Regions from separate parts of the Homo sapiens genome. Here all the other regions are linked to region 6. Evidence: fine-mapped expression QTL. A gene starts in region 6. Each other region holds a variant in brackets. All regions are shown on one strand. Distances are from middle to middle. Region 1 overlaps LLGL1 (LLGL scribble cell polarity complex component 1). Region 2 overlaps PEMT (phosphatidylethanolamine N-methyltransferase). Region 3 has its middle 16 kb from the start of LINC02076. Region 4 overlaps TOP3A (DNA topoisomerase III alpha). Region 5 overlaps TOP3A (DNA topoisomerase III alpha). Region 6 holds the start of SHMT1 (serine hydroxymethyltransferase 1).

What was found. PIP is the estimated chance that this variant, and not a neighbour inherited with it, causes the effect.
Region 1: its variant is fine-mapped to the expression of SHMT1 in lung (TOPMed, PIP above 0.99).
Region 2: its variant is fine-mapped to the expression of SHMT1 in cerebellum (GTEx, PIP 0.92).
Region 3: its variant is fine-mapped to the expression of SHMT1 in whole blood (INTERVAL, PIP above 0.99).
Region 4: its variant is fine-mapped to the expression of SHMT1 in whole blood (INTERVAL, PIP above 0.99).
Region 5: its variant is fine-mapped to the expression of SHMT1 in subcutaneous fat (GTEx, PIP 0.95).

What each region holds. Positions count from the first base shown.
Region 1 is chr17:18,229,520-18,234,680 of GRCh38, reverse strand. It overlaps LLGL1 (LLGL scribble cell polarity complex component 1), which reads right to left. Exons shown (of 23, transcript NM_004140.4): 2 at 4,643-4,740; 3 at 2,105-2,186; 4 at 1,879-2,009; 5 at 745-903; 6 at 506-668; 7 at 273-408; 8 at 1-32. Among named protein-coding and RNA genes, the nearest start is that of LLGL1, 6.5 kb to the right of the region's middle. RefSeq lists enhancers at 2,493-3,326, 3,327-4,162. The variant C/T (reference allele first, on the strand shown) is at 2,847.
Region 2 is chr17:17,508,208-17,513,368 of GRCh38, reverse strand. PEMT (phosphatidylethanolamine N-methyltransferase) reads left to right here. Exons shown (of 7, transcript NM_148172.3): 4 at 715-860; 5 at 3,824-3,935. Among named protein-coding and RNA genes, the nearest start is that of RASD1, 14 kb to the right of the region's middle. RefSeq lists an enhancer at 1-640. The variant A/C (reference allele first, on the strand shown) is at 2,400.
Region 3 is chr17:18,424,150-18,429,310 of GRCh38, reverse strand. It overlaps the pseudogene KRT17P5 and the pseudogene KRT17P2. Among named protein-coding and RNA genes, the nearest start is that of LINC02076, 16 kb to the right of the region's middle. The variant A/G (reference allele first, on the strand shown) is at 2,086.
Region 4 is chr17:18,280,575-18,285,735 of GRCh38, reverse strand. It overlaps TOP3A (DNA topoisomerase III alpha), which reads left to right. Exons shown (of 19, transcript NM_004618.5): 14 at 216-329; 15 at 429-594; 16 at 2,895-3,038; 17 at 5,078-5,161. Among named protein-coding and RNA genes, the nearest start is that of MIEF2, 22 kb to the right of the region's middle. The variant C/T (reference allele first, on the strand shown) is at 2,784.
Region 5 is chr17:18,299,043-18,304,203 of GRCh38, reverse strand. It overlaps TOP3A (DNA topoisomerase III alpha), which reads left to right. Exons shown (of 19, transcript NM_004618.5): 6 at 1,481-1,624; 7 at 1,770-1,940; 8 at 2,219-2,319; 9 at 4,571-4,645. Among named protein-coding and RNA genes, the nearest start is that of TOP3A, 13 kb to the left of the region's middle. The variant G/A (reference allele first, on the strand shown) is at 2,869.
Region 6 is chr17:18,360,687-18,365,686 of GRCh38, reverse strand. It overlaps SHMT1 (serine hydroxymethyltransferase 1), which reads left to right and starts at 2,137. Exons shown (of 12, transcript NM_004169.5): 1 at 2,137-2,315. RefSeq lists a silencer at 2,043-2,512.

The DNA.
Region 1 (5,161 bases), 130 kb after region 6:
AATCTTGTTAATGGCCTTGCAGGGAAAGGGGCCTGAGGGGTGGGACAGCGTCAGACCAGACTCACTGGTGGTTCTTAGCAATTCTGCCATTCCTGCTCTGCCCTCCACTGCTCTCTACCTTACAGCTGCCTCCTGCCTCCCCGGGAAGTCGGCGGGAGACACACTGCCCCCAGACCACCCCCTCGGGGAAGTCCCTCCTCAGCCAGTTTGGCTTGGCTCAGTGGTGCCCCCTCCCATCACCACCCTCTGGCTAAGGTGTCCCCAGCACTCACCGTAAGGTGTGGTGGCTACCGTGGGCTGCAGCGTTGGGAAGCTGCCGGCATCCACAGACCAGACAGCATAGCTGCCATCGCTGTGTGAGCTGACCACAGTGCTGCTATCACGCCCCCAGCATAGGCTCTCCAGCTGCTGCGGGCAGGCAGGGGCAGGCAGGCAGGCAGGCATGAGCCATGGTGGGCATGCACAAGGGGCCCAGGCTGAGGGGACACAGGCCTCACCTACATACCTGGTTCCCCAGGAAGATGTGGTCCACACACTGCGAGGCCTGGTTCCAGATGACCAGCAGGCCCCGGCTGTAGCCAATGAGAATCTTTGTGGGGTCCCGCAGGTGTCCCTGGAGTGACTCCACGGGGCCCAGTGCCTTCCCACAGCGGTAGTCGTCTGGCACGCTGTGGAGGAAGGCAGGTGAGCCAGCAGAACTTCCCGGGCACACAGTGGGTGCTGGGAAGCCCACCGGCCTCTTACCTGCGCAGAACCTCGCCTGGGGCAAGCGTCTGCCCCTCGAGCAGGGTCAGGGTGGTAACATCCAGGAAGAAGACACTGCTGCCCTCAGTGCCCAGGGCTGCTATGTCGCTGGCAGCCACCAGCAGGACCACTGTGACTCGGGTAAGGCTGAGCGGAGCACTGCAGGGAACAAGGGGAAGGGAGTGAGGGTACAAGCCCATCCACCTGCTCAGGTGGGGTGTGAGGGGCTGGGCCACTGCTGATAACTCATCACTGGCCCCACAGCACTCACCAGGGCCTACTTACAGAGCCACCCCAGGAAGACATGCATCATCATCAGCCCGCTCAATTATTCATCAGGATGTCAGCAGGGAGATGGATAAAAATAGGGTCCCTAGGTCTTGCAGACTGGGCTCCCAGCTCCTCCCACCCACCAGGAGAGGACAGCAGGAACCAGGGCACTGCCCAAGCCAGGACCAGGAGCTCCCCGCTGAGCCCCTCCTAGGAATCCCGCTGCCAGCGCTCAGACATCTCCTGACTTCGCAGGAGGGCCCCAGATACCCCCATCTGCAGAAGCTGGGAGGCATCAGGAATCCATCCCTGGGTTGGTACTCCCCTTTTCCAGCTATTTCAGGCAGGGCTGGGGAGAGAGATGCCCCACACTCTCACTCAGCTGGGGCATGCTGCCAGCGCCTTACCAAGCACAGCCCATGGGACCCTCCTTGCCCTCAACCCTGCCTATGCACAGAAAGGCCTGTCTCCCACCCACAACTGAAGAGGCCAGGGGACCCTTCCTGTTACTAACTGGCTTAGGCCCTGCCCCAAACCCCTAGACACCCCCATCATTGCAGTAAGTGTAGTGCCAGGCCTCAGGTCCTAGAAGTTTGGCATATAATGCATGTACCTCCTGCTGCTCACAATGTTAATTACCTGCTCACGTCGGACTCAACCCAAACCTCCCATTTAACCTGAAAAGTTCAGAGTATACCTCAGTAAAGCAGGGTCCAACAGCTGCAGCCTGGGACCCAGGCCCAGCTCAAGGCATCCCGCCCTGAACCGCTGCCCATCTCCATGCTGCCTTTGCACAGCAGGTTCCCACAGCCTCCCCCAGATCCTCCCTGCCCGGTGGCTGGCCCCAGCCAAGTTCTCCAGTACCTGGCACCATCAAAGCCGGGCCGGCTGGGCAGCTGGAAACTGAGTGCTTCTTCCAGGTGGGCACAGCCATTATGGTGGACAATCTCCCAGAGATGCAGACTGCTGTCATCAAGCAGGGACAGGAGGCGGCCCTGGTGTGTGAGCAGAGATGAAAACTAGGCTGGCCTAGGGGGATGAGTAGATATGGGGGCCACAGGGAGCTGGCTAGTGGGAAGCAGAGGCTCACCTGGCCGGTCAAGAAGTGCATCTGTGTGACAGTGGCTGCATCCCGGTGCAGGCCTGTGAACTCCACGCCAGGTGCACCATAGCTGAGGGTGGCAGGTCAAGGTGGAAATAGGCATAGACCAGCAAACCACAGTGAGGAAGACACCCAAGGCTCCTCCTTGACCCGGACTATTCCAGTGGGCCCCGGCATGGGCCTGACCATCCAGGAGTCCTCCCTGAAGAACGGAGGCCCCCTCCCTAAAGCTCCCACTCTGCACCCCTACAGTATCCCCAAGATCAGTGTGCAGGCTCCACTCACTCCTGCAAGTCAGGTGCTGCTATAGGACCTTCACTTCCCGTAAATTGGGCCAGTGACTCCCACTTTACAGGACTGTTGCAGATCAAGTGAGAATAAACACACCCAGCAGGCTTGGCCTCAGCCTGGTGAGAGGATGGGGCTCCGCTCCACTTCAGCTCCGTGTGTCTATGGGTTCTGGGAGCTGCGCCTTGCCGGATGGGATCAGGCAGGCCAGAGGTGCAAGGCCAGGCCTGGACAAGAAAGCCAGGGGGCAGAAGAGTCCAGGCTGCCTTTTCCCACAGCTTCAGGCCAAACTTCAGCCATGGGTAAGAAAACCCACCTCCTCTGGGCACGGTGGCTCGCTCCTGTAATCCCAGCACTTTGGGAGGCCGAGGCAGGTAGATCACAAGGTCAGGAGTTGAGGACCAGCCTGGCCAAGATGGTGAAACCTCGTCTCTACTAAAAA[C/T]GCAAAAATTAGCCGGGCATGCTGGCAGGCACCTGTAATCCCAGCTATTTGGGAGGCTGAGGCAGAGAACTGCTTGAACCCGGGAGGCAAAGGTTGCAGTGAGCCAAAACTGTGCGACTGCACTCCAGCCTGGGCAACAAAGAGCAAGACTCCATCTCAAAAAAACAAAACAAAACAAAAAAAACCCACCTCCCTCCAAAGCAGGCAGCCAACAACTGCCATCATGAGGGAGGAGAGACTCCAGCCTGCCCATTTCACAGATGAGCACACAGACTTGGAGGGGGTGGATGACCTGCTTGAAGTGCCCAGTGTCAGTGCCTGAGTCCCGGCAACTCCAGGGCTGATGGTGGACAGCAGGGCCTGAGGGGGCCCCATGACAGAGGGTGCAGGGAGGAGTCAGCAACGTTGCCCCGGTGACAACACAGGAGCCGTTGCCTGGAGCTTGAGCTCAGATTCCCTACAGGAGCCTGGCGAGAAACTCCGAAGAAGGGACAAAAGAGGGGACAGGAGCAGCTGGGCGGGAACCAGGGTCGTCAAGGAGATGGGGCTGGCCTGGCAGGGGGAGGGGCAGCTTCTAGTGACCAGGGCTGGCCCTCTCCAGCCTCAGTTTCCCAACCCAAGGGGCTCCAGGCAGTGGCAGTCAGGGGAAAAAGGGAAGAGGACCCCGGGCTCCAGCCTCCTTTCTGAGGCTCAGTCTCCTCATCTGCACTTCAGGTTCTTTTTGAGCCTGAGGACAAGTGCACTGGAGACCCCAACACAGGAGGGACACCTGAAGGCTGCAGGGACACATGTGCGCACGCAGCGCAGCACCCACAGGAGTGGGAGCAGCAGGCCAGGCAGCGGAGCATGTGGGGCCCAGAGCACTGCCACACTCACCAACAGAGGCCGCTGGGGCCATGGGAGAGAAGGGGACATCTCAGCCCATCCACACTCCCCAGAGTAGGCAAAGAGCTCACAAACCACAGGCTCAGAGTCCCATCCCTGCCTGATCAGTGCCCCCAGTCCTGGGGTGAGGAGACCCCCATCCCACACCCTCCCCTTTCCCAGCACTGACACATTTTCTGGGAACTGATGTCTGAAACCAGGATACTGAAACCCAGAAGGCCACACAGGAGGGGTAGGGGTCAGCACCCCTCACCAAGCCGCCATCAGCCAGACCCTGGCACCTCGGCTTCCCCAAGAGCAGTTGGGGTGGGATTCTCCAGGGCTGGCAAGGAGACACTGAGCTGCCGGCCTGCCCCCACCCCCACCCCAGGCCTGCAGGGAAAATGCCCGCTTTGTGTGGCTCACACAGCCCATTGTGCAGCAGCCAGTATCCAGGTGGGGGCCGTGCTGTGCTCACCATGCCGAGCCTGGCACTGCCCCCAGGCCCCTTTGCTGAACACATGTGTCTTCACATTCACACATGTGTGCATCAGCTCACCAGGGCCCCCAGCCCACCTGCCACCCTCCATGGGTATCATAGCCCAGCCTTCTGCCTGGCCTCCCCAGAGTTGCTGGGACGATGGCAGGGTCGCCTAGGTAACTGGCTGGCTGACACGTAGCAAGGGACAGCTGTGCTACTGCAAACTGACCCCCCACCACCCGTCTCTCAGCAAAAGGACCCCATCATCTCTGCACAGTTGTCTCAGGTACAGAAGCCACGCCAACCTCCGCAGAAGCCCCCACTACTGCCCATCAGAGCACCTCTGTCCTCCTCTCGAGCTGGACACTGCCAAGACTGGGACCCCAGAGCACAGGGAACTACAGGCAGGTGGTCCTGAACAGACCCTGAACACCTGTCCTGCAAAGGATACATCTTGACAGCCCCAGACCTGGTGCCGATGGCCATGATGCGAAGTTCCGGGTCGAAGGCCAGGGCGCTGGGCTGATTGGGGAAGCCATGCTCCACAGTCTGCAAGGAGGGGAGGGCTGCTGGGGGTAAGCACTCCCAGGCACCTCTGCCATGGCCCACCCTGAGGCCCACCCCAAGGCAGCCTCCAGGGTCTGCAGCTGACACACTGGGGGTAGGAGGCAGGTCTACTTGCTCTGTGCCTCAGCGTCCTCAACTGTGAAATGGGTTATCATGCCTCCAGTTGGTGGGGAGGTGGCTAAACCCCTAGCCTCCACCATGACTGTACCGCGTGCATAGTCCACAGAGGCCCGCCCTTTGCCAAGCCCCTGTGCCCCTCAATGCACACAGGCTCATGTGGGCCCCACTGCATGGAGGCTCCAGCAACAAACAGGTGAAGCAAGGCTCACAGAGGTGCAGGCACTGATGAGGCCCCACCTGCTCCATGAAGGGCTCTGCACCCCATTTTTAGAGGCACAGACTA
Region 2 (5,161 bases), 850 kb after region 6:
CACCTCGGCCTCCCAAAGTGCTGGGATTGCAGGCGTGAGCCACCACACCTGGACCCCACTACCTTTTTACAAGGCCTTCAGTGGTTTGGCCCCAAAGGGAGCCTAGTGGGGGAATTCAGGTGTGGAGGAGGACATTAAGGGCCCCCAAAGTGCCTTTAAATGCAAGTCAAGCCACCCAGGATGTGGCCAGACCCACAGGGGCTGTGGAAGCGCAATCCCTAGCACAGAGCATGCCCCAGGCCTCGGGGCACTGAGTCTGTTGGGGAATGGGACACCTGGGCCTGCCCTGCAACCTGGCACCTGCGTCTTTCCTGAGCCTCACTTTCCTCCATAGTATGAGTTGCTCATTGGACAGGATGAGAGTTTGCAAGCTGGTGGCCTTCGGGCTGAATCCAGCCTGCTCACATGCAGGGTCTAAAGTGGCTTTCATGAATTGTCTATTTCTAAAAATTAGGATATTTCACATACGAGTCAGGATTTCTGGCTTCTCTTGAAAAAATTTAAAAATCTGACAGGCCTGGGCCCCTCCCTGTTACTGTCACCCACCTCCCAGGTGGACTGGACCCCACCTGCTGCCTGCCTGGCCTGGCAGCCCTGGGCTGGCTACTCTCTAAGGGTCCCTGGGGAGAGGGCGAGAAGATGAGGTCGGCCTCCTCCCGGGCTGTGACATCCTCCCTGGCCATGACGTCCTCCCTCTCCATCCCCTGCCCACAGCTTCACGCAGGCCATGCTGAGCCAGCCCAGGATGGAGAGCCTGGACACCCCCGCGGCCTACAGCCTGGGCCTCGCGCTCCTGGGACTGGGCGTCGTGCTCGTGCTCTCCAGCTTCTTTGCACTGGGGTTCGCTGGAACTTTCCTAGGTAAGACCCTGAGGGCTGGGGTGACCCTGAGCAGGACCGCTGGAGCCCCAGGGAGGTGCAGGGCCAGGTGGCTGCTGCCCTGCTATCCGTGACATCGGTGGGAGTGCTAGGGGCCCCCTCCATCGGGGCGTCTTTGCTCCTCCAGGCCTGGCTTGTCTGTGGTTAGAACAGGAGGCTGGGCTCCAACAGCTCCTCTTACCCCAGCGTGCTGAGCGGCTGCCTCCTGGGGAGTGAAGGCAGCTCCTGCTGCTTCTCTCCAGCTAATGAAGATGCACTCAATGCCCGTTCTGCGGCCCGGGCTGGGTGCAGGACTCCTTGAGTCCAGCTCCAGCACCAGCTCCCCCTTGCAGAAGACTCTCAGGCCTTGTTGCACAGAAGCCTGAGGTGGTGGTGAGTCAGCCACCTCTCTGGCAGCTCCCGGCACGCGTGGCTCTCAGGCCAGGCAGGATTGTGGTTTGTGCCGTGTTTGGCCGCAGGCAGGGCTGGTGTAGGTCTGGGGAGGGGTGAGGGGTGGAGGCACCTTATCCCTTCTCCATTTCCCTCTGCCTGTGGCTGAGGTGCTTTCAGGCTGTGAGCCCAGTGCTGGCCTGGCTAGACGCCCACCAATGACCCTGATGATGGCAGCAACTTCCAGCTCCTTGGAATCTGGGAAAGAAAAGCAGCCATGGGAAAGGCAGTAGGGGTCGGGGTGGGAGGGGAGATGGGGGCAGGGGTGGGGGACAAGAGGGGGCCTTCGGAACCTGGAAGGAGAGAAGGAGGCAGTCCCTGTCCAAGGGGAGCCCCTCCCAGTGAGCAGGGAGTTGGTCCAGCTGGCCGCATTGCCCGCTCTCCGTCATGGGTGGGAAGGCCCACGTCTTCCTCCCCATCAGCCCTGGCCAGTGCAGGAGCTTGGAAGTCACTCGGCTTCAGTGGCCTCAGTAGCCTCCTGGGACCAACGGTGTCCTGAGGAGCTCCCGGGCCTGCCTGCCATCCCCATCCTCAGATGCCGGCTACAGCTCCTTGGGCCCAGCCCCCAGGGCACCGTGGGCTGTCACAGGGCACTCCAAGTTCTCAAGGAGCTTGTGCCTGCCAGTAGGGGTCCCCCCGAGGGAGGAAGTGGCATCTGTGGGTGCAGCATTCTGGATCGCCCATGGCCAGGCCTCTCTGGGACTGTGGGGGGCACCCACAGGCAGTTCAGTGCTTCCTGCTCAGGCAGACGCTGTAGGGAGTTTGGTCCAGGAAGGGGGACAGCAGCCAGGAGCGTCTGGATCTGCCAGGTGGGGGCAGGTGCGGGCAGGTAGGAAAGAGAAAAAAGCCTTGGTGCAAGGAGAGGGAGGTTGAGGGCAGAGTAGCTGGCAGCTGGAGGTGGGGGGCAGCTGGACTGGCCGCACAGGTGCTGTCGGTTGGGACAGGGCAGGAGGATGAGCCGAGGCCTTGAAGGCCATCCAAGGGGCTGAGGCTCCATCCCCAGAGAGGTGGGAGCCATAGGGGGGGTCCCAGCAAGGAAGAGGTTGGACCGATGGAGCCAGGATCAGAGGTGGGGCTCAGGAGGAGCTGTGG[A/C]GGGGCCCTTCCAGGATGTGAGGGCGGTGAGGGCCCCATGGGAAGGGGGACTCCGGGCTGTGCAATCAGGTCCTGTGGGAGACCAGCGGCGGGGGCCCTCCAGTGGCCAGTGCTCGGGTGGATCTGGACAGGGAGGGCTGCAGAGGCAGCGTAAGGAGAGCCAGGATGGTGGGTGGAGCCCCTCAGCAGTGGAAGAACAAGCTGGGGGTCCTGGACAGTCAGAGGGAGGGAAGGAGCCTGCAAACACCAGTGGCCACAGCCTCCTGGCGGCCCTGCCAGCAGACATGGCCTAGAAACACCGAGGACCAGCAGCGCGGTATGTAGGCAAAGGTGGTCACTTCCTGCTGTGACTCAGCTCGAATTGGGTTTCTGTGCCATCTACGCACACCCTGTGCCCCACTTCCTGCTTCCTGGGAAGAAAGAACTTTCCAGTGGTCCTGGGCCCTGCCCCGTGTCCCCAGATGGTGATGAAGCTCCTGGACCCCTCCTGCCCATGCTGCCCATTGTCGGGCAGCTGCCCTACTTTCCGCCTTGGATGAAGCTCCATTGTCCTCTGGGAGGAGAGACAAATGAGGGGTTTCTGGGGACAGAAGGCTGGGAGGAACGAAGCCACACCCTTTATGGAGCGGTTACTCTGTGTCCAGTGGGACTGTCCTCTGTGGGCCTGGGACAGACACTGTGACTGTGACCCCGGCCACTCCCTTATGGCTCAGAGCAGCTCTGCCGGGGGACGCCTTGTGGCTGTGCGGCTGACGGGTGCATGGCTGGCCTGTCTGGAACAGGCTGTTCAATAGTCACCCTCTCTCCACTGGGTCTAGCTCCTCTGGGCAGCTGAGTGAGAAAACAATACCAGAGCTGACCTCCCAGAGCAACGGGAGGCGTGCTGTGGCCAGGCCCTGGTGCCAGAGCCACACAGCCTGGGGTGTGGAGCAGAGCAGCCCTTAGCAACCAGCTGAGGCCCCTAGAGGGAGAGGAACTCACCAGAGCGAGGAAGAGTGGGAGGTAGGACAGGAAGAGGAAGGGTCTGCATAAAGAGGCGCCATGAGCAGAGGGCGAAGGGCCTGAGGAGGAAAGGCGCTCTCTGTACAGAGAGCAGGGAAAGGCATCGCAGGGGAGGGAACAGCGTGTGCAGAGCCAGGAAGAAGAGGAAGGCCAGCATGGCTGGGTCAGAGTGCTCGAGAAGAGGAGCAGTGGGGCAGGGGCGGTGCTCAGCACCTTAGTCCTTAGGCCCCACGCCCTCTGCTGTCTGCGTGCCTGTTGGGTCCCTCTGACTCTGCCCATTGTTGAACTCTCTGAAGTCTCCTGGAGGGCAGGGCCCTGTCTCACCTGCAGGTCTCGCCACAGCCCGCTCTGGGGCCTCCCTCAGTGATGGTGTGGCCAGGGCTGATGAATAGCCGAGGGACCCTGCCTTGCCTCATCCACAGGTGATTACTTCGGGATCCTCAAGGAGGCGAGAGTGACCGTGTTCCCCTTCAACATCCTGGACAACCCCATGTACTGGGGAAGCACAGCCAACTACCTGGGCTGGGCCATCATGTGAGTACCAGGCTTGCCACCCCTCTGCCCTGCTGGCCACCTCCCGGAGAGGAGCTGGTGCAGCTCAGGACGCGGGGGCCAGGGCCCCTGGAGAGAGAGAAAGGAAGAACGTGTCATTTGTGGGGGCCTAGGCGCCCTGGTTCTCCCTTTCTCAGAAGCGTCTTATCTATGGTAACAGAAACAACATCCCAGAACAGGGTGGTCAGCTTCTCCAAAGAGGGCTGGAGTGTGGAGGCTCAAAGGCTGCAGGCAGGTCACAGCTGCTCAGCCCTGGTCCTGCCACACAAAACAGCTGCAGACGCAGGAAAATGGATGCGCGTCTTTGGCGCCAGCACAGCTCCACTTACAGACACTGAAGCCTAAATTTCAGATTCTTTTCACGTGTCATGAAACATTCTTTTTGATCCTTTTGCTTTTAACCGTTTAAAAATGTAACAGGCGTTCTTGGCCCCTAGGCCGTAGTTTGCGGACCCTTGTGCGGGGACATCAGGGCTGGGACCACCCGACCCATCTTCCCCGCAGGAGGGGTTGGCCAGAGCCGCCAGGGCCCAGCTCACCCGCAGCTGACAGAACTCCCTGTGCCCCAATAGCCTCTGCCCATGTGGCAGATACCCCTTCCCACAGAGGGGGCCCCGTGCCATGAGGGAAGCCTAGAACTGCTGTCGGCCTCAGCCAGGTACGGGTACTGACAAGGTATGGAGATGTGCTCCCCCGGCGGGTCAGAGGACCTGCGGTCAAGGATGGCACAGCGGGCGCTGCCCTCGGCTTCATACCCAGCCCCCACCCCAGCAGTTCTAGTTTAGCCATTTTCTTCCATAGAAGGTTTTTTGGCAGACAGTGTTCCACTGCTTTTGTTTAACACTTGAAAACCACTGGCCTAGAATTTACAGGTTCTCCACAAGACCTGAGGATCCCAAAGGAGTGAATCGTAAACAGTGAATGTCAAGCGCAAGATGTTGCCTCCTGGCTCCCACCTTCAGCAGTTGGGACCGTAGCAGCGGGGGTTGGAGACAGCAGAAGCTAGAAGGGGGGCTGTGGGTCTGGCTGGGACCCACCCTACCCCCACCCCACGTCCAGGCCAGGCAGTCCCCAGGGACACGTCCTACCTGCCTTCTAGCCTGGTCCCTCTGCCTGCTAAGGCCCAGACTATGTGCCCCCAGGCTCACCGGCCATGGAGCACCCCCACTGGGGCCACAGGATGAGCCCAAACTCAAAACAATCCCCCC
Region 3 (5,161 bases), 64 kb before region 6:
CCTCTGCGGGCCCCTGGGAGGTTCCTTGGGTACAGAGAAGCAGTGTGGTACAAAGAGGAGTCTGCCCTGCACGCTGGACCCCAAGGATCAGGGCTCCGCAGACAGGGAAGCCCTCTAAGGTGACTAATCCCAGTGCGCCTGCTGTGCTCTCTCGCACGGCCTCAGCCATGGCCCAGCCCCAGGGCTCTGCCACCCACTCCTCAGCATCTTTGACCTTCTGCCCCAGCCACCTCACCTCGTGGTTCTTCTTCAGGTAGGCCAGCTCCTCCTTGAGGTTCTCAATGTGCATCTCCGGGTCGGCTCTGGCCAGGGTCAGCTCATCCAGCACCCTGCACGGGCCATTGATGTCGGCCTCCACACTCAGGCACAGGGCCTGCTCTGTCTCAAACCTGCCATGGGAATCAGGGACTTCAGCCCAGGCTGCTTGGAATTGCAGGTCCAGGTCCTGGCTGCTCACCTGCCTTCATTTTGCCAGGACTCTAAGGGGTTGGAAGGGCTGATGAGAGGGTCGAGTGGAAACGAATTCCAGCCCCGGGGCCTTGGGACCATCACAGGGCCAGATCCTACGCCCACCAGCTTCCTTACTTCTCTCTGCCTCCTGCCTCCCCTCCCTCTCTTCTATTCCCTGCCTAAGCCCAGCAACCTTCAGAACTGGCTGCCTTCACTGCATCCTGGACTAAGTAGTGGGGCTCCTAGGATTGCCCCACCCTGAGCTCCTGGGCCTTGCCACAAGCAACCAAGGAGTCCTGGGGTCAGGAGGGGTACCCTGAGATCCTCCCCCAGCTGACCCAGGCTGCCCAAGCCCACAGCTAGGACTCACTTGGTGCGGAAGTCAGCAGCAGCCAGATGGGCATTGTCATTCTGTAGCAGGATGTTGGCATTGTCCACGGTGGCTGTGAGGATCAGCGGAGATGGGAGAGTAGTCAGGTCATCGGATGGGGGTGGCTGAGCCCACACCAGAGTTCTGAACAGATCTTCCTGCCTGGGGGCCTCTCTTCCCGCCCAGCCCCTCCCTTGCCCCGTGCTGTATTATTGGCAGAGGAGGGGCAAGCAGGAGTCTGAAGGGCTCAAAGGTGCCTCTTCTTCCCCCGCTACTCAGTACCCCACCAGACCCCCATGCCAGGCTCAGCCTTAAAGGAGAAGAGACAGCTGGCTGGGAGTATGAGGCAACCAGAAAAGAAAGGGAAAATGTCCCCAGGGCAGAAACTGTCCCAGAATTCTAGAACAAGGGAGGGGATGTGGGCAACCCCCTCGTTTTACAGTCAGCTAGAGGGTGCCCCTGACAGGCTCCCCCAAAAGGAGGCTAAAGGAGCCCTCACCAAAGAGTGGTCCCAAATCAGAAGTCAGGACCCTTCCTAATCCCTAACCCTGGGCTCCAGCCAGCAGCCCCGCCCCCTGCGGTTTGCTGAGCCTGTCTTAAGGGACAGCAGGAGGAAAGGAGAAGCCAGAAAAATCCCCAAATAAGGCACATCAGAGGCCTTCCCCACCCTGAGGTCCCACCCCCTCCTTTCTGCCTCCCACCCGCAGCAGGTGCTATCGGGAGCTCACTCAGACACCCCCACTCCACACCTCCCAAAACCCCTTCCTGCTGACCCCTGCTCCAAAGGAGCAAGACACCACGCATCCAGTGGCCCATGGGCCCAGCCCTCCATCTGCATCCTCCTGCCTCATCCTACAACCTCTCCAGGTGGAGGAGCTCCACGAGGGAGAAACTGAGTCTCCAAGGGGCTCCACGAGGCCTGTTTGTTCCTGACTCAGCCTACTGCCCCCAGAAAAGGGGGATGTGGGCCACACAGGGGCCCCAAGGCAGGTTCCCAGAAGCTAAGCCACAGCCAAACCACCCTTGGCTCCCTGAGACCCTATGGCTGGACTCCAGGCCTTTGGCCAGGGCAGGAGTTGGGGGGAAAAAGTCATGCCCCCCGGAGACCCCTCCCACCAGCAGGCCCTACCTTGTTCTGCAGCTCCTCGATTATCCTGTAGTACTGGCTGTAGTCACGGGCGGGCCCCGGGGCCTGCCTCTGGTACCAGTCACGGATCTTTACCTCCAGCTCAGTGTCGGCCTCCTCCAGGGCACGCACCTTGTCC[A/G]GGTAGGAGGCCAGGCGGTCATTGAGGTTCTGCATGGTGGCCTTCTCACCTCCGACCAGCAGCCCATCAACGCCCTCAAAGCTGCTGCTGCCATAGCCACCGCCAGAGCCAAAGCTGTAGCAGCTGGAGTAGCTGCTACCCCCGAGGGCGCTGCCCAGGCCACCAGCAGATCCCGGCCTGCAGGAGCCGGCACCCAGGCCGCCAGACAGCTGGCAGGAGGTGCGGGACGAGCCGCCCCCCAGGCCAGAGGAGCCCTTGATGGAGCTGGAGGAGGTGAACTGGCGGATGGAGGTGGTCATGGTGGCGGCGGCAGGAGGCAGGCACACAGGAGAAGGGCTGGAAAGAAGAGGGGCCCCAAGTAGTGTAGGGCTGCCGGGGTTCACAGGCTTCCTTTATAGGCCACCAAGTGGGCGTAGCGATTACAACAGGCTCCTCTGTTTCCCTTCCCCTGGGCTTTCATCACCACGGGCCACCTGCCAGCTCCCAGGTGGCTGGGGACCCCCTCCCCACCCATCATCAGGAATTTGCCTCATTTCTCCAAATCCTCGTGCTGGGTGCCACGCGTGTGCGTGCCACTGCTCTGAGGCCCGTCACCTGTGATTTGGGCGGGCCCTCCAGCTATGCTTTCCCATGACCTAATATGGGAGAAGAGGAGAATACAGGACTTCACCGTCCCCAGGCCCTCCCAGGCAGCCACCACCCCAGCCCGGCCCACCTCAACCCTGTCTGGTGGGGAAATGGGTTGCAATGTCAGGTGACCACCCCCTGAAGTTGCTGTCTTTCACCCCACACTGCTCCACCCAAGGTGCTGGCCCGGGGCTGGGTGCTGAAGAGAAAGAAGGGACCGAGAGCCTATCCTGCCTTGGAAACTGAGCCCAAACCCACCAGGCCCACCTCACAGCATAGAAATGCCATCAAGCCTCGGAGACCAACCCACATCGCAGATAAAGAAATTGGGGCTCCAGAGGGGTGCAGTGTCCACACTGGCCCCTTCTGCAGAGTCTGACACCCAGGAATGCACTCTAGGGGCTACAGTTCCATCCAGTCAGCTTCTGACCCTGCCCCATCCCTAGAAGCCCTTGCTAACCCAGTCTCCTCGTGTAAACCTTTCCCCAGGTTTACACTCCAGGCTGGGGTGGGCAAACAGGGGCTCAGCTATAGGATGGGGGAAAGGTGGGCCGTGCTAAGAGAGGATCTAAACCAACTGAGAGGGGGATGCCCCCTTCCACTCCTCTCACCCTTCTGTACCCCAAGAGACCTCAGGGTCAGGGGAGGGGCATTTCTCTCAGGTCTCAGCCCACAGGAAACCTAAAGGACATTGCCCAAGAAGAGGCTCTTACAGAGACCCCAGCCAGCCAGCCCCCTCCCCACTCCAGGCTCCCCAAGATGTGGCTCCTCGGGCGGGCCAAGTGCCCCACTCCACAGCCCCACCCTGCCCTGCCCACCACCCCAAGCCCCGCCCTGGGTCCCAGGGTCCTGCCAGGCCCGCTGGGTGGAAGGTGGTCATGTTTCAGACTGCCAATGGCTTCCACTTCCCAGACAGGCCCAGGTAGCCCCACCAGCAGCGGAGAGAGATTCCTCAATAGCCCAGTGGCTGCCAAGCCACCAAAGCAAACAGGACACCCCCCATGCGTACACGCACAGCGGCCACCCTGCCCCACACACACCCCGAGCTGGGCAGAGCCGGTCTGCTTTCCTGGGCTAGCTGCCTCGCTCTCACCCCCTCACTCATCAGTGCCCTGGACCACTCCTTCAGAAGCCCCTCCCCACCGAGCCCCTCTCCTTCTGCTCTTGAACCCACCCTGGGCTGAGGCAGGGAGTGCTCCCCAACAGGTGTGGTCCTTGGAAAGTATGTGTGGCCCTCCCAGGGACCAGCCACAGGTGACAGGGACTCAGGGGCTGATTCTTAGAAACTTTTCCCAATACAAGGGGCTGTCCCTTCCCTCCACCCTTAATCCTTCCTCCTCCTCCCCTCTGGTCTTCTAGGAGCCCCAGGCCTGGATGGAGTGGGCAGAACAGATTGGCAGGTGACAAGCCAATACCCAAACACTCAATAAACTCTCCACCTATCCCAGTCCCTCAGCCCACACTGCCCCAAACCAATGAACAGACCAGATCACACGAGGCATTGAACTTGGAGCAAAGCTTTAATAGCAGGCACTGGACAAACCCAGGAGGCCTCCTCAGTGAGGGGCTGCAGAAAGTAGATACAGAAAGACAACAGGTCATGGACCAGTGCCCAGACGGACACTCGGGGCGTGGCAGTAGCATGCTGGGAGCTGCAGCTGATGGCTGTGCCATGACCCTCGAGGTGGGGCTGTCACAGGCAGAAAGGGGCCTCAGTGGGTGGAGAGATGGACCTGCTTACAGAAGACCACCTCTCCAACCTGGACTTCCTCCACGATGGCACACCTGGTGGCTGGTCACTGTGGCTGCAGGCGATGGAGGAGGGAGGCACAGGGAACATCAGGCAGGAGCTCTTCCCCCCACCTGCCCGAGTCTGTGGTCCCCCCAGTCTCCCACACAGAAGGGTCCTCAGCCTCTCCGCCGCCTTGGGGTCCACACAGCAGGACAGGGCAGCTTCTTACCTTCCCAGGTGGGCTGCGAGGCCAGGGACAAGGAGTACTGAGTGGCCAGCCTGCAGGGAGAGGAGCACCCATCGACCCAGGGATGCCAGCCAGCCCAGGCCCCTGCAAGCACTGCTGGGGAGAAGCAGGCCCTGGCAGAGGAGGTTCCCCTAAATTGGTGAAAAATCACAGTTGGGAATGCACAGAAATTAGCACAGGCCCAAGAATGAAAGGGCAGGGGTTCAGTGCAGCAGGAAGAAGAAAAAGAAACAGCACAGCAGTAGGCCTGGAGGCACTCACCAGGAATTTACAAGGAGAAGCTGAGCAAGTGGTTTTTCCATGTCCCAGAGGACCCAACAAATAGACCCAATTAAAGCAGGAGAGACTGTCGTTAGACTATAGATGGACTTCACCATTTTCGGGGAGCAAAAAGCTGCAACGTGTGACTAAGCATGGAGACTCCAGGACACACTCAGCTGAAGGCCTGATCACCCTTCCCAACTGCAAAC
Region 4 (5,161 bases), 80 kb after region 6:
ACAGCTTTCCTGAGTAATGGGATGTGAGGGAACAAGAGAGTTGAGGTTGCCATTGTGATTTCTTGAATGAGCTATATGGGAATGAAATGAAGGCATCTTACCTGCATAGGCTGTCCAGGCAAAGGAGGGATTCCGGGGTGAGCAAGGTGCCCATGCGCCACCCGGGTGGAGCTGTTGTCTGTATTACCTCAGAGTAACCAGCAAGTGGCTTCCAGGTACGGATGCCACTCATGCGGAGCACATCGAGACCATCAAAGCCCGGATGTACGTGGGCCTCACCCCAGACAAGCGGTTCCTCCCTGGGCACCTGGGCATGGGACTTGTGGAAGGTAAGGGAGGACAGAGCTTGCAGTGGGTAGTGGGTGGTGTCGCCCAAGTCCCTGAGGGTCTCAGGTGGGCCCTCACTGAGCTCGACTCTCTCCCTGCAGGTTATGATTCCATGGGCTATGAAATGTCTAAGCCTGACCTCCGGGCTGAACTGGAAGCTGATCTGAAGCTGATCTGTGATGGCAAAAAGGACAAATTTGTGGTTCTAAGGCAGCAAGTGCAGAAATACAAGCAGGTTTTCATTGAAGCGGTGGCTAAAGCAAAGAAGTAAGTCCTTAAAAGAAATACAGAGGGGTCTCACTATGTTGCCCAGGCTGGTCTTGAACTCCTGGCCTCAAGAGATCTTCCCACCTCAGCCTCCCAAAGTGTGGGGATTACAGGCGTGAGCCACCGCATCTGGGCCAGTCAGAGTTTATAACCCTGCCAGATTCATCCTCACCAGTGGCCTCCTGGCCTGGAGGTTTTCCACATACCCCTTTTCTTTGGACTTTCTTCTCTGGGTTCTTTTACAACTCTCCATAGAGCTTTGTCAGTATAGAAACAGTAATCGGAACAGTCTCCTTCAGTTATTCTGAACTATTGGCTTTAGAAATACCATTCTCTTGATTTTAATTATCTTTTTTTTTTCTGCTTTAATTACATGACACATTAATTATCTTGAGTTAGGCAACAAAGTCTTTTAAATCAGTAAACCCAAGTGCTGGAGTGTGATCCATTTGTTTTCTGGAGCATTTAGAGGTGGATATTTAGCAAGCAGCATGTGTGTATTTTGTTAGAAATGATGTGTTTTCTACCTGTGATATTATGATTTATAATAAGATATATATATTTGGACTTCATTTTCTGATACCCTTGGAATTTTTTAAGTGCTGTGTCTGTTGTATACAAATGAGATGACTAGTGGCCAAGGGCTCCTGGGTAGCCTTGGGATCGGTCTGGTTGTCAGGGAACCAACCCTGTGATTAGAAGGTTGGGACTTTGAGTCCCACCCCTACCTCAGGAAGAGCAGAGGGGCTGGAGGTTGAGTTGATCACACGTGGCCAGTGATTTGTCAATCATGCCTAAGTAATAAATCCTCCATAAAATCCCCAAACAAGGGTCAGGCACGGTGGCTCACGCCTGTAATCCCAGCACTTTGGGAGGCCGAGGCGGGTAGATCACAAGGTCAGGAGTTCAAGACCAGCCTGGCCAACACAGTGAAACCCCTTTCTCTGCTAAAAAAAAAAAAAAAAAATACAAAAATTAGCCAGGCATGGTGGTGCGTACCTGTAGTCCCAGCTACCTGGGAGGCTGAGGCAGGAGAACTGCTTGAACCCGGAAGGTGGAGGTTGCAATGAGCCGAGATTGCCCCACTGCAGTCCAGCTTGGGCAACAGAGTGAGACTTCTTCAACAACAACAAAAACAAATCAAACAATTGGGTTTGGGGCACATCCAAATAGCTAAACAGGTAAAGACTCCTGGAGGGTGGGTGTTTGGGAGAGGGCATGGAAGCTACCCCTTCCCCACATCCCTTGCCCTGTGCATTGCTTCCATCTGGGTATTCACCTGGATCCTTTGTAATTAACGGGTAAGCATAAGTAAAGTGTTTCCCTGAGCTCTGTGAGCCACTCTATTGAGAATCAAACCAAGGAGGGGGTCTGAGGAACCCCAGTTTATAGCCAGTCAGTCAGAAGCACAGGTCACAGCCTGGGATTTGTGACTGACATCTGAGGGAATTTGGGGCAGCAGTCTTCTGGGACTGAGCCCTTAACCGTTAGATGGATCTCCAGGTGCATAGTGTCAGAATTGAATTGAATTAGAGGATGTCCAACTGGTGTGTGGCGGGAGAGTTGCTTGGTGTATGGGGAAAACTCCCATACATCTGGTGTCTGATGTGTGTTGTGAGACTGTAATAGAAGATAACAGTTTGTTATTTTCTGTTCTTTAGAGTACCCCATGCCAGTTGTGAAAAGGCAGGCATGAGCTAGTTTAGACTTAATACAGACAGACACTCCTGGAGTTTGTACATGGACCCTGTGCAGTTTTACTTTTTTTTTTTGAGATGGAGTTTCGCTCTTGTTGCCCAGGCTAGGGTGCAATGGCGTGATCTTGGCTCACCACAACCTCTGCCTCCTGGGTTCAAGCGATTCTCCTGCCTCAGCCTCCTGAGTAGCTTGGATTACAGGCATGCGCCACCATGCCTGGCTAATTTTGTATTTTTAGTAGAGACGGGGTTTCACCATGTTGGTCAGGCTGGTCTCGAAATTACAACCTCAGGTGATCCGCCCGCCTCGGCCTGGGATTACAGGCGTGAGCCACCACATTTGGCCCAGTTTTACTTTTTAATGTGGGCTGGTGACAAGCAGAAGCATCTGCCTGTATCTGGACTCTCCTCCCAAGAGTTGGTTCGGCACCAGGGCCCATGGTGAGCTCAGTCTTCTGTCTGCCGTCTGTTCTCTGCAGGAGGCCTGCGGCT[C/T]ACTGACCAGCTGGTTCTCAAGGTCACGCCTGTTGTGTGCATGTAAGAGTGTTGTAGGTGCCTTTGCAGCGATTGCTGGCTGATGGGTGTCTGTCTTTGCCTTTTCTTCAGATTGGACGAGGCCTTGGCCCAGTACTTTGGGAATGGGACAGAGTTGGCCCAGCAAGAAGATATCTACCCAGCCATGCCAGAGCCCATCAGGAAGTGCCCACAGTGCAACAAGGACATGGTCCTTAAGACCAAGAAGAATGGCGGGTGAGTGCGCTGCCTTCTGCCCCCACCTCTGCTCCCCAGCACCTGCGGTGTCAGCCGTAGCTCGAAAGACCCTGCCATTTCACTCCATGGAATCTTTCAAGACAGGCCTGTTGTTGCCAACCTGCAGGCAAGGTGTTGGCCTAAAAGCATAGCAGGGTGGGATCAGGCCTTTGAGGTGTAAAGCACTATGGGAATTCAGAGCAGGTGAGAAACTGAATGATAGTGGGGTTTTTTTGTCCCCTGTGGATAGGACATCATATACCCAATGTGTAACACATGGAGGAGCATGAGCTTCAGATCTAGGTGGGTCTGGGTTCAAATGCCACTTATGCCGCATATAAGTGGTGTGGCCTGAAGCAAGTTACTTACCTGCTCTGAACCCCAATTTCTTCTTTTATAAAATGTCAGTACTTACAAGGCTGTGTTAAGGGTGAGGATTTGGTGAAAATGGTCAGGACTATATAGCACATTGCCTGATGTGTTGTAGATACTCAGCAGATACTACTTTTGTTCTCTCCTAGTTTTAGTTCTGAATGGGGCCTGAAAATCTCAACTCCCTTTTCGCTTTAAATATAGTAGATCTGAGTGGGCAATTTAGCTTCACATCAGGTTGTTGGAGCCAGTGGCTGGCCACTGGAGGAAGTTCACGGGGAAAGACGAGGTGGAGGGGTGGCAGCCATCATTCATCAGGTGCCGTCCCTCACTGGTGTAATGCAGGGTGGTGCTCTGTAAGCATTACCTCATCCCATTCTCCTAACTACCCTGCAAGGCAGGGATTTTTATGCAGCTTAGAGGGCTGAGGTGCTTGCTTGGAGTCAAGCAGCCGTGGTGGGCAGCAGAGTTTGAAACCGGGTTTTCACTGCCTTTTTCCATCCTGCCTGGCCCACCTGGGACTGCTGTGCTCCTTGCTGCTGAATAAGAAAGGAGGTTTCTCAACTCCTCACCTCCAGCCATCATTAACCTGGCTGGCCCAAGTGAAGAGAAGGCCACCCAGGCTCTCAGAAACAAGAGGTCTATGGGCCAGACCTGGAAGCAGGTGTCAGGGCTCGCGTCACTCACAGACAGAAGCCAGTGCCACTCTAGGCTTAGCCCAATGACTGGGCGTATATTTCAGCACTTAATAAATGCTGTCGATGGGTTTTCCTTGCTATCGGTAGGTTATTGGATTAGTACTCATTGGAATATAAGGAGAGAGAATAACTACTTTTGTTTTAGCTCTGAATTCTCCAATTCTCTGAATTGGAGAATTATTATTATTCTTTAGTTATTCGTTTGTTCTTCTGTTATTCTTTTGTAATGCTTCTCTGAGTTACTCCAGAAGGTCAGGAGATTATCTTGTGGGATTTGCCACTCCATGATTTATCTGTTAATTTCCATTTCTGAGATTGTAAATTTCTTATTTAAATGATTGGAGTTCGGGGCTTTTTTTTCCTTCATAGTGTACCCAGGCACACTCATGAGGAATTTGTAAATCACATGCATATTAGCTAGTCAAACCCTAACGTTTCATGACTGCAAGGTGTTGAAAAACATTGGCCAGGAGAGACCGGGATGGGATGGATGGGCAGTGGGTGGGGTGTAGATGTTGCAGGTGAGGCTTTGTCACAAACAGATGGGTTTCCATTCCTGGCTCCCATCCACACATGCATGCATGTCTCTGGGCAGGTTTCCAGGCCACACCAAGCCACTGTTTACTCACATGCAAACTGAGGGGGCCCCTGACACTGCCCAGACTTGGCACGAGGCAGAAAGGCAAGAATGTGTGAGTGCACAGCACAGAGCCCCTGGCGTCAGCTTGGTTGGTTGTTGGTTTTCTAAATAGAAAGCAGGGCCAGCAATAGCTGCTTTGTGCTTTTGGGATGTGAGAAGGCTCATTTTTCCCAATCAATTCAATATGAGTGCTTGTGTATCCAGTTAAGTGTCATCCAGAAAAGGGAATGTTGTCCTCGGGCAGCTGAGGAAAGGCTGCCTTAGCTGATGGCCAACAGCGGAGAGCATCTCCTGCACTCCTATCATCTGACATGGCACTTTGTCCCCAGGTTCTACCTCAGCTGCATGGGTTTCCCAGAGTGTCGCTCAGCTGTGTGGCTTCCTGACTCGGTGCTGGAGGCCAGCAGGGACAG
Region 5 (5,161 bases), 62 kb after region 6:
CTCCTGAGGTCAGGTGTTCAAGACCAGCCTGGTCAACATGGTGAAACCCTGTCTCTACTAAAAATACAAAAATTAGCCAGGTGTGGTGGCGGGCGCCTGTAGTCCCAGCTACTCAGGAGACCAAGGCAGGAGAATTGCTTGAACCCAGGAAGCAGAGGTTGCAGTGAGCCGAGATTGCACCACTGCACTCCAGCCTGGGTGACAGAGTGAGACTGTCTCCAAAAAAAAAATGTTCACCAAGAGCATTTTAGTATTTTAGTTATTGGAGGGGGCCTGCCCCTCCACACCTGTGGGTATTTCTCACAAGGTGGAGACGAGAGACTGAGAAAAGAAAGAAGACACACACAAAGTAAAGGGGAAGAAAAGTGGGCCCAGGGGACCGGCGCTCAGCAAGTGAAGACCTACACCAGTGCTGGTCTCAGTTCCTCAGTATTTATCAATCACTATCTTTACTATCTCAGGGAGGGGAATGCAGTGTGACTATAGGGTGTTGGTGGGGAGAGGGTCAGCAGGAAAACAAACAAAAGACTGTGTCATAAATAAGTTTAAGGGAAGGTGCTGTGCCTGGATGTGCACGTAGGCTAGATTTATGTTTACCTTTACATAAACATCTCAGTGCAGTAAAGAGTAACAGAGCAGTATTGCCGCCGTGATGTCTCGCCTCCAGCCATAAGGTGGTTTTCTCCTATCTCAGAATAGAATATATGGTCGGTTGTACACCGAGTCATTCCATTCCCAGAGACGTGCAGGAGACAGATGCCTTCTTATCTCAACCGCATAGAGGCCTTACTCTTTCACTAATCCTCCTCAGCACTGACCCTTTACGAGTGTCGGGCTGGGGGGCTGTAAGTCTTTCCCTTCCCACGAGGCCATATCTCAGGCTGTCTCAGTCGGGGGAAACCTTGACAATACCCAGGCTTTCTTGGGCAGGGGTCCCTGCGGCCTTCCACAGTGCATTGTGTCTCTGGTTAATAGAGAGTGGAGAATGGCGATGACTTTCACAAAGCGTACTGCCTGCAAACACATTTTTAACAAAGCACATCCTGCACAGGCCTAAATCCTTTAAACCTTGAGTCAATACAGCACATGTTTTTGTGAGCACAGGGTTGGGACAAGTCACAGATTATTAACAGCATCTCAAAGCAGAACAATTTTTCTTAGTACAGATCAAAATGGAGTTTCTTTATGTCTTCCTTTTTCTACTAGACACAGTAACGATCTGATCTCTCTTTTCCCCACAGTTACTAGCTAAAATTAACTCCATCACTATTTCTGACAGTACACTCAGTTTAAAGGTTATGGTGATGTTTCCTCTTTAGACACTGTACACCATTGATTTAACCTAATAGGTAAATTGGTCATCTCACAGCTTCTTGAACTGGTTTGCCTTTATTTCAAGGGGCTTTAAGAAAAGTGAGTCCTTTATGATGGAGGGCAGTGTGATTTGACTTTGACCTTGGTAACACCTTGTGTTCTGCAGTAAAGCCCAATCTGCAGGTGTTGCGAGCCCGATTCTCTGAGATCACACCCCATGCCGTCAGGACAGCTTGTGAAAACCTGACCGAGCCTGATCAGAGGGTGAGCGATGCTGTGGATGTGAGGCAGGAGCTGGACCTGAGGATTGGTGAGGAGCTAGGCAGACCTCTCCCATGGCCACATTAATGTTGTGTTATGGGACCAAAAATGGGCTCTGTGTCGATATGTGCAGCCAGCCCTGGACTCTCATTATCCATCATTTTCACCTTCCTTCACTCTCCTTCACTCTCCAGGAGCTGCCTTTACTAGGTTCCAGACCCTGCGGCTTCAGAGGATTTTTCCTGAGGTGCTGGCAGAGCAGCTCATCAGTTACGGCAGCTGCCAGTTCCCCACACTGGGCTTTGTGGTGGAGCGGTTCAAAGCCATTCAGGCTTTTGTACCAGAAATCTTCCACAGAATTAAAGGTAGGGCCTGGAGTGGGTGTTATGGCCTGGGACCTATGGGCTCAAGGTTAAGGAGGGGGACTGTGAGCATTAATAGCACTAATAAAGATGTGATTTATTTTAGTCTTGCTGTCATCCTCCCTGGCCCATTACAATCCACTTAAAGTTCCCTTTGTTATCCAGAAACTCCTCCCTATTTGATATTCGTTTGACTTTCACCACAATAAACCTTTTTCTATCTGTCATATCATGACATGTCTCTGAGACACAGCCTTTCTGTTTGTCTCTCCTTAATATAGTAACTCATGACCACAAAGATGGTATCGTAGAATTCAACTGGAAAAGGCATCGACTCTTTAACCACACGGCTTGCCTAGTTCTCTATCAGTTGTGTGTGGAGGTAAGAACCCCTAATGATCTAGGAAACATTCTGCACACCTCCCAAACCACTCCCACTGTCGGCAGAGGTGATCTGTCTCATTCTCCCATTGGACTTTAGCTTTAAGTTTGCATCTCAGGGGATCACTTTTTGGGAACCAATAAGACGAACCCCATGAGAACAGCACTAAAAGGAAAAGGGAAGTATCTACATTATTTTTAGATAAAATCAGAAATTTTGGGAAACGTATAGTTGAAATCCCCTCTTGGGGCATATACTATCACCAGAAATTAGCAAGGATTATCTAGACCAGTCCAGGTCATTGACTTATAGAGCTAGGAGAGAATGAACAGCATTTGGCTCAGCCCCCTCTTTATTGGTCACATGAGGACATCTAGAGAAGTGAAAGTCACAAATTAGTGGGCTAATTTTATATAGTGATAAAAGCTAGGAAGAAAATAAAGCAAGGTAAAGGGATAGAGAAAGGCCGGAGGGACAGTGAGGGGAGGGGTAACACTTGAGCAGAGGCTGGAGAGATTAGGGAAAGGGCTGGCGGGGTGGGTGGGACAC[G/A]CATGTGTCATAGAAGGGAGCAAGACTGGCCCGGGTCATAGGCCAGTTGGTGGCAGAGTTGGGACCCACCCTAATGTTTCCTGGCCCTTGGGCTGATTGTTTACTTTCTGATGCCACTTCCTATTAGCACATAACAGCCTGGTTTAACCCAGGGGCTGCACAGAGTCATGCTTAAGTAAAATTCCGAGCTCTCTAGGCTTAATTCATGGTGTGCTTCTTGGCTGTAGCCCACTGGCAGATTTGTTACTAATTAGGCAAAGGGATGTGATAACTGTGCAGCACCCGCTATGGACCAGGTACACTTCGTTATGTGTTGTTTTGTTTAATCCTAATAATGCCTCTGAAGGCAGTGATAGCATCCACATTTTCCAGATGAGGAAGCTAAAGAAAGTGAAGAGACTTAACCCACAGACACGTGAGAGCTGTACATGGCAGAGTCCTAGTGTGTCCCTGCCCCTTCTGCAGACCATGCTGCCTTCTCCATCTCTCTCTCACTCCACCCTTTGACCCTGGACCACTGGGAGTCTCTGTGACACTGTACAATTATTTGTTAAATAAAAAGACCACCAGCCTGGGTTTCATAGTGAAACCCCATCTTTCTAAAAAAGAAAAATTAGCTGGGCGTGGTGGTACCTGCATATAGTTCCATCTACTTGGGAGGCTGAGGTGGGAGAATCGCTTGAGCCCAGCAGATTGAGGCTGCAGTGAGCCATGATTATGCCACTGCACTTCAGCCTGAGTGACAGAACGAGATACTGCCTCAAAAAAAAAATCAAATAATAATAAAATATAAAAGTAAGTAATAAAAAGACCTGCCCTGTTTCTCCTTCACTCGGATGTGGTGCGGGACTACGTGGTGGGTGATGTAAACTATGAAGCTGGTTTTAAGATTAAAGGTCTCCAACTTGTACAATTTCTCCTATTTCTTTTTTTTTTCTCCCCCGAGACAAAGTCTAGCTCATTTGCCAGGCTGGAGTGCAATGGCACGATCTCAGCTCACTGCAACCTCTACCTCCCGGGTTCAAGCGATTCTCCTGCCTCAGCCTCCCCAGTAGCTGGAACTACAGGCGTGCACCACCACGCCCAGCTAATTTTTGTATTTTTAGTAGAGATGGATTTTCACCATGTTGGCCAGGATGGTCTAGCTCTCGACCTTGTAATCCGCCCGCCTCGGCCTCCCAAAGTGGTGGGATTACAGGCGTGAGCCACTGTGCCCAGCAATTTCTCCTATTTCTAACTGTATTATCCTGAATTTTTTTTTTAAAGGAGCACTGGGCCAAGCATGGTGGCTTATGGGAGTATTGCTTGAGCCCAGGACTTCTGGGCCAGCCTGGGCAACATAGCAAGACCCCATCTCTGTATTTTAAAGAAAACAACAACAGAAAGAGCACTGTGCACGTGTACATAGAAAACTGTACTCAGGTGATGCATAGGCTGTTGGATTTCATAGGCTCTGGTGGAAGCACCTTAAGGCTTGTGAAATTGCCCTTCACAATCTTGGTTTGAGTGGGAAAGTAGTGATGGTGTCTACCATACTGTCAGCTACAAGCGACATTAAGTGGGGCACTCTTCTAGGCTGTCACTGCGGGCTTAGCTGGCGGTGGTCAGTGTGATCTAGAAGGATTGGCATGGGCTATCCATAGGAAGGATGGAGATGATGCACTAACAGGTTAACATGGTCTTTTCTTTCCTGGCTTTCTAGGATCCCATGGCAACTGTGGTAGAGGTCAGATCTAAGCCCAAGAGCAAGTGGCGGCCTCAAGCCTTGGACACTGTGGTATGTTCCAGACAGGCTGTTTCAGGCACTCGGGGAACACTTACTGTTTTGAGGCTGTGGTTCTACCGCCTAGACTGTGGCTTGGTGGAAGAAAATATCACCCATCACCAGGCCACACAAGAAAACACTGGAGAAAGACACGGTCCTGCTTAGCCTCACTGTTTGTTTTTTTGTTTATTTTGTTTTTGTAGACTCAAACTTCTGGGCTCAAGAGATCTTCCCACCTCAGCCTCCCAAGTAGCTGGGACTATAGTCATGTACCACTATGACCAGCTAATTATTTTTAAAATTTTTTGGTAGAGATGGAATCTCACTATGTTGACTAGGCTAGTCTCAAGCTTCTGGCCTCAAGTGATTCTCCAGCCCCAGCCTCCCAAAGTACTGGGATTACAGGCATAAGCCACCACACCCAACCACTGCTTGGCCTGTTATTTTTTATTTTTTATTTTTTGAGATGGAGTTTTGCTCTTTTTTTTTTTTAATTTTAATTTTATTTTTATTTTTTTTAATTGATCA
Region 6 (5,000 bases):
ATGCCTGTAATCCCAGCACTTTGGGAGGCCGAGGCAGGCGGATCAGAGGTCAGGAGATCAAGACCATCCTGGCTAACACAGTGAAACCCTGTCTCTACTAAAAATATAAAAAATTAGCCGGACATGGTGGCGGGCGCCTGTAGTCCCAGCTACTCGGGAGGCTGAGGCAGGAGAACGGCGTGAACCTGGGAGGTGGAGATTGCAGTGAGCGAAGATCGAGCCACTGCACTCATGCCTGGGCGACAGAGCGAGACTCCGTCTCAAACAAACAAACAAAAAGAACAATTAGCTGGGCATGGTGGTGCACGCCTGTAGTCCCAGCTACTCGGGAAGCCGATGCAGGAGAATTGCTTGAACCAGAGAGGCAGAGGTTGCAGGGAGCCAAGATCGCATCACTGCACTCCAGCCTGGGTGACAGAGCGAGACTCCATCTCAAATAAATAAATAAATAAAACAAAAACAAAAAACAAAAACACTCACTATGTTGGCCAGGCGCAGTGGCTCTTGCCTGTTATCCCAGCACTTTGGGAGGCCGAGGAGGATGGATCACTTGAGATCAGGAGTTCAAGACCAGCCTAGCCAATATGGTGAAACCCTATCTCTACTAAACATACAAAAATTAGCCGGGTGTGGTGGCTCACGCCTGTAATCCTAGCACTTTGGCAGGCTGAGGCAGGTGGATCACAAGGTCAGGAGATCAAGACCATCCTGGCTAACATGGTGAAACCCTGTCTCTACTGAAAATACAAAAAATTAGCCAGGCGTGGTGGTGGGCTCCTGTAGTCCCAGCTACTCGGGAGGCTGAGGCAGGAGAATGGCATGAACCCAGGAGGCAGAGCTCGCAGTGGGCCTAGATCGCGCCACAGCACTCCAGCCTGGGCAAGAGAGGGAGACTCCGTCTCAAAAATAAAAAAAAATTAGCCAGGCGTGGTGGCGGAGGCCTGTAGTCCCAGCTACTCAGGAGGCTGAAGCAGGAGAATGACGTGAACCCGGGAGGTGGAGCTTGCAGTGAGCCGAGATCGCGCCACTGCACTCCAGCCTGGGCGACAGAGCAAGACTCTGTCTCAAAAAAAAAAAAAAGTTTTTTTTGTATTTTTTGTTTGTTTGTTTTTCGAGATGATGAGGGTCTCACTCTGTTGCCCAGGCTGGAGTACAGAGGCAAGATCATTGCTTACTGCAACCTCTGCCTCCCAGGCTCAAGTGATCCTCCCATTCAGCCCCCCAAGTAGCTGGGACTACAGGCGACTGCCACCACACCCAGCTAATTTTAAAATTATTTGTAGAGACAAGGTTTCACCATTTTGCCCAGGCTGGTCTTGAACTCCTAGGCTCAAGCCATCTGCCTCGGCCTCCCAAAGTGCTGGAATTACAGGGGTGAGCCACTGCGCCCGGTTTTTATCATTCTTATAATAATTATTGTTATCATTTGACAAATAAAAAAATTTATGACGCAGCCTCAGGTGGTCCTGACATGTGGCCCCGGTTTTTATCATTCTTAACAATAGGTAATGTTCATTGAGTCCTTATTGTGTGTCAGTATTTTATTTATCTTATTTTATTCTTCTTGAGACGTTGTCTCGCTCCGTCCCCCAGGCTGGAGTGCAGTGGCGCGATCTCGACTCACTGCAACCTCCGCCTCCTGGGAGGCAACATAGTTAGACCCCCATCTCTACTTCAACCTGGGGGACAGAGTGAGACCCTGTCTCAAAAAAATAAAAATAAAAAATAACAAAAATAATAATAATAAAGTGTCTGCTCTTGGATTATACACCTACAGAGTAATAATGTTGCAGTTTGGACGCACATTTGTCCTACTTTAAATGACCACCCTGCAAACTAAAAGTAGTACCATGAACAAAATTCACTCATAATCCCACGGCCCAAGCGACAGGCTTAAGTGAGGAAGGCCCTGTGTAGTCTTCCTGGAAATCTTGGTCCACACACCAGCCCTGCAGCCAAAGCGGGTCAGTTCTGCAGGTCCCTGCCCCAGGTGCGCAGCTGCACTACGCGGCCTCCGGCCCGCCCCGGAGAAACAGGCCCTGCCCGCCGCTGCGCCGCAGCCAATAGCGCGGGTGCGTTTGGTGGCGGCCCATGCTTGGCTGCGCTCTCTGATTGGGCGCCTCCGGGGGCGGGGCCAAGCCCAAGCCTGGCGCGCAGAGTGCACCTTCCTGAGCTCGAGCGGTCCAGCGCCAAGTTCGGGGTTTGGGGTTGGAGCGGCTGGTCACGTGGCTGGCCCGCGGCGGTGCGCGGGGCGTTGGGTCAGCGGGTCTGGGACTGGTGGCACCGGCGGCGGCGTAGGACGGAGGCGTCGCTAGGTACGTGCGCGGGCCGTGTTCCGGTAGGTGGGCGGCTTCGGGTCCGAGGGCCGCGGCGTCCCAGAGCCCGGGGGGTGCTTCGGCGTCCTCGCTGTCCCCCGCCGTACCCCACCCTCTGCAGCCGCAATGACGGGAGGGGAGCGCTTGGGTCGCGCCTGGGCTGGGGATCGGGCGGCGGCCAGCCGCAGCGCCCCAGTTCCAGGCACATTCGGTATGATGGGGTGGCGGCCCGTGGCCTTTGGCAAGAATGCGAAGGCTTATCGGGGATGTGAGTAGTAGCTCTCCACTGAACACTTTTCTCGTTGAGCATTTTCGATTTAAACAATCCTAGCTCCTTCACAACAAAGCTGCAAGTCAAGTGCTACTGTTTCCCCCATTTTACAGGTGAGGAAGGTGGTGGGGCCCTGAGAAAGGAGGCAACTTAAATGGCAGAGCCCGGAATAGAACCCGGGTTCTCAAAGCCTGCGCCCCTAAAGGCTGCGCGCAGGGTCGCTCCACTTTTGGCCCGTGCCACCAGATCCCTGTGGGGAATGAGCTCTTCCTGTTGCCCGCAATCTGCCACCCCCTGTTCTAGGAGACAAATGTTGCACTGTGAAGTTCTTGGCCCGGTGCCTTGGCTTCGAGATTCCGGGAGTTAAGTGACCCTTGGTCCAGCTGAGGTCAGCACAGATGCGGGCCTTCAATCGGGCAGTTACCCAGAGAATAGACTGGAAACACCAGTTTAGGTTCTTGCAGAAATAACATTGTAGGCCGGGCGCGGTGGCTCATGCCTGTAATCCCAGCATTTTGGGAGGCCGAGGTGGGCGGATCACTTGAGGTTAGTAGTTGGAGACCAGCCTGGCCAACATGGTGAAACCCCGTCTGTACTAAAAATACAAAAAAACCTGGCTGCCCATGGTGGCACACACCTATAATCCCAGCTACTCGGAAGGCTGAGGCAGGAGAATCGCTTGAACCCGGGAGGTGGAGGTTGCAGTGAGCGGAGATCACGCCACTGCACTCCAGCCTGAGTGACAGAGTGAGACTCTATCTCAAAAGAAAGAAAGAGAGAGAAAGAAAAGAAAAAAAAGAAAAGAAATAACGTAAATTTATTACTTGGGGGAACTTGGAACGGAAGTGGGTAATTGTGTTTTTATTTAGTGCAATGTCCTGGGACAAGGCCTTGGAACTGAAGAGAAACCATTGTTCAGATTCTGGCTCTTATATGGCTTTAGACAAGTTAGCTCCCTGGGCCTCAATTTCCTCTTCTGTAAAGAAGAGAACACAAAATGTGTGTGAGATAGAAGATGTGCAACAAGTTAGTTCCCTGAGCAGATCCTTGGCTGGATCCTCTTATGTGACAGAGGCCCAGGTAAGATTTGGAGGCATGGGGAGGCTGGTGACCTTGCAGGTGACTTCACTTACTAGGTCTTTTTCCCTGACGTTGAGGATCATGCCACACATGAGCAACAGTGCCTCTACAGAAATATCCAATGTTGTAATGACTGATGTTGCAGTGAGCTGTGTTGGCTGGGGGACTTACCAGGTATTACTGAATGTTAATGAAGATGTCCCTAAGATTCCCAATTTTCTTTTTTTTTTTTTTTGAGACGGAGTCTCACTCTGTTGCCCAGGCCGGAGAGCAGTGGCGCGATCTCGGCTCACTGCAAGCTCCGCCTCCCGGGTTCACGCCATTCTCCTGCCTCAGCCTCCTGAGTAGCTGGGACTACAGGCGCCGCCACCACGCCCAGCTAATTTTTTTTTATTTTTGTAGAGACGGGGTTTCACCATGTTAGCCAGGATGGTCTCGATCTCCTGACCTCGTGATCTGCCCGCCTCGGCCTCCCAAAGTGCTGGGATTACAGATGTGAGCCACTGCACCCAGCCCCCTTTTTTCTTTTTTGTTTTTTTTTTTGAAACGGAGTCTAGCTCTGTCACCCAGGCTGGAGTGCAGTGGCATGATCTCGGTCCACTGCAATCTCTACCTCACTGGTTCAAGCTATTCTCCTGGTCTCAGCCTGCTGAGTAGCTGGGATTACAGGCATATGCCACCATGCCTGGCTAATTTTTGTTTTTGTTTTTTTTTTTTTTTTTGAGACAGAGTCTTGCTCTGTTGTCCAGGCTGGAGTGCGGTGGCACGATCTCAGCTCACTGCAACCTCCTGGGTTCAAGCGATTATCTTGCCTCAGCCTCCTGAGTAGCTGGGGTTACAGGTGCGCACCACACACCCAGCTCATTTTTGTATTTTTAGTAGAGATGGAGTTTTACCGTGTTGGTCAGGCTGGTCTCGAACTCCTGACCTGGGGTGATGCACCCGCCTTGGCCTCCCAAAGTGCTTGGATTACAGGAATTGAGCCACTGCGCCCAGCTAATTTTTGTATTTTTAGTAGAGATGGGGTTTCACCATATTGGCCAGGCTGGTCTCAAACTCCTGACCTCAAGTGATCCACCCACCTCGGCCTCCCAAAGTGCTGGGATTACAGGCGTCAGCCACCGCGCCTGACCGCTTTTTTTTCTTTCTTTAGAGAGACGGGGTCTCCCTATGTTGCCCAGGGTGGTCTTGACTCTTGTGGTCCTGTGACTCCCCAGACTTCAGGTGTGCAAGCCTGATTTCTGACCCTTGGCCAGTCACACTTTCTCCTTTGTCTGGCCTTTGAACTTGGGGTGCTCTGCACTTGTTTACTCTGCGTAGATTGCTCTCATCCC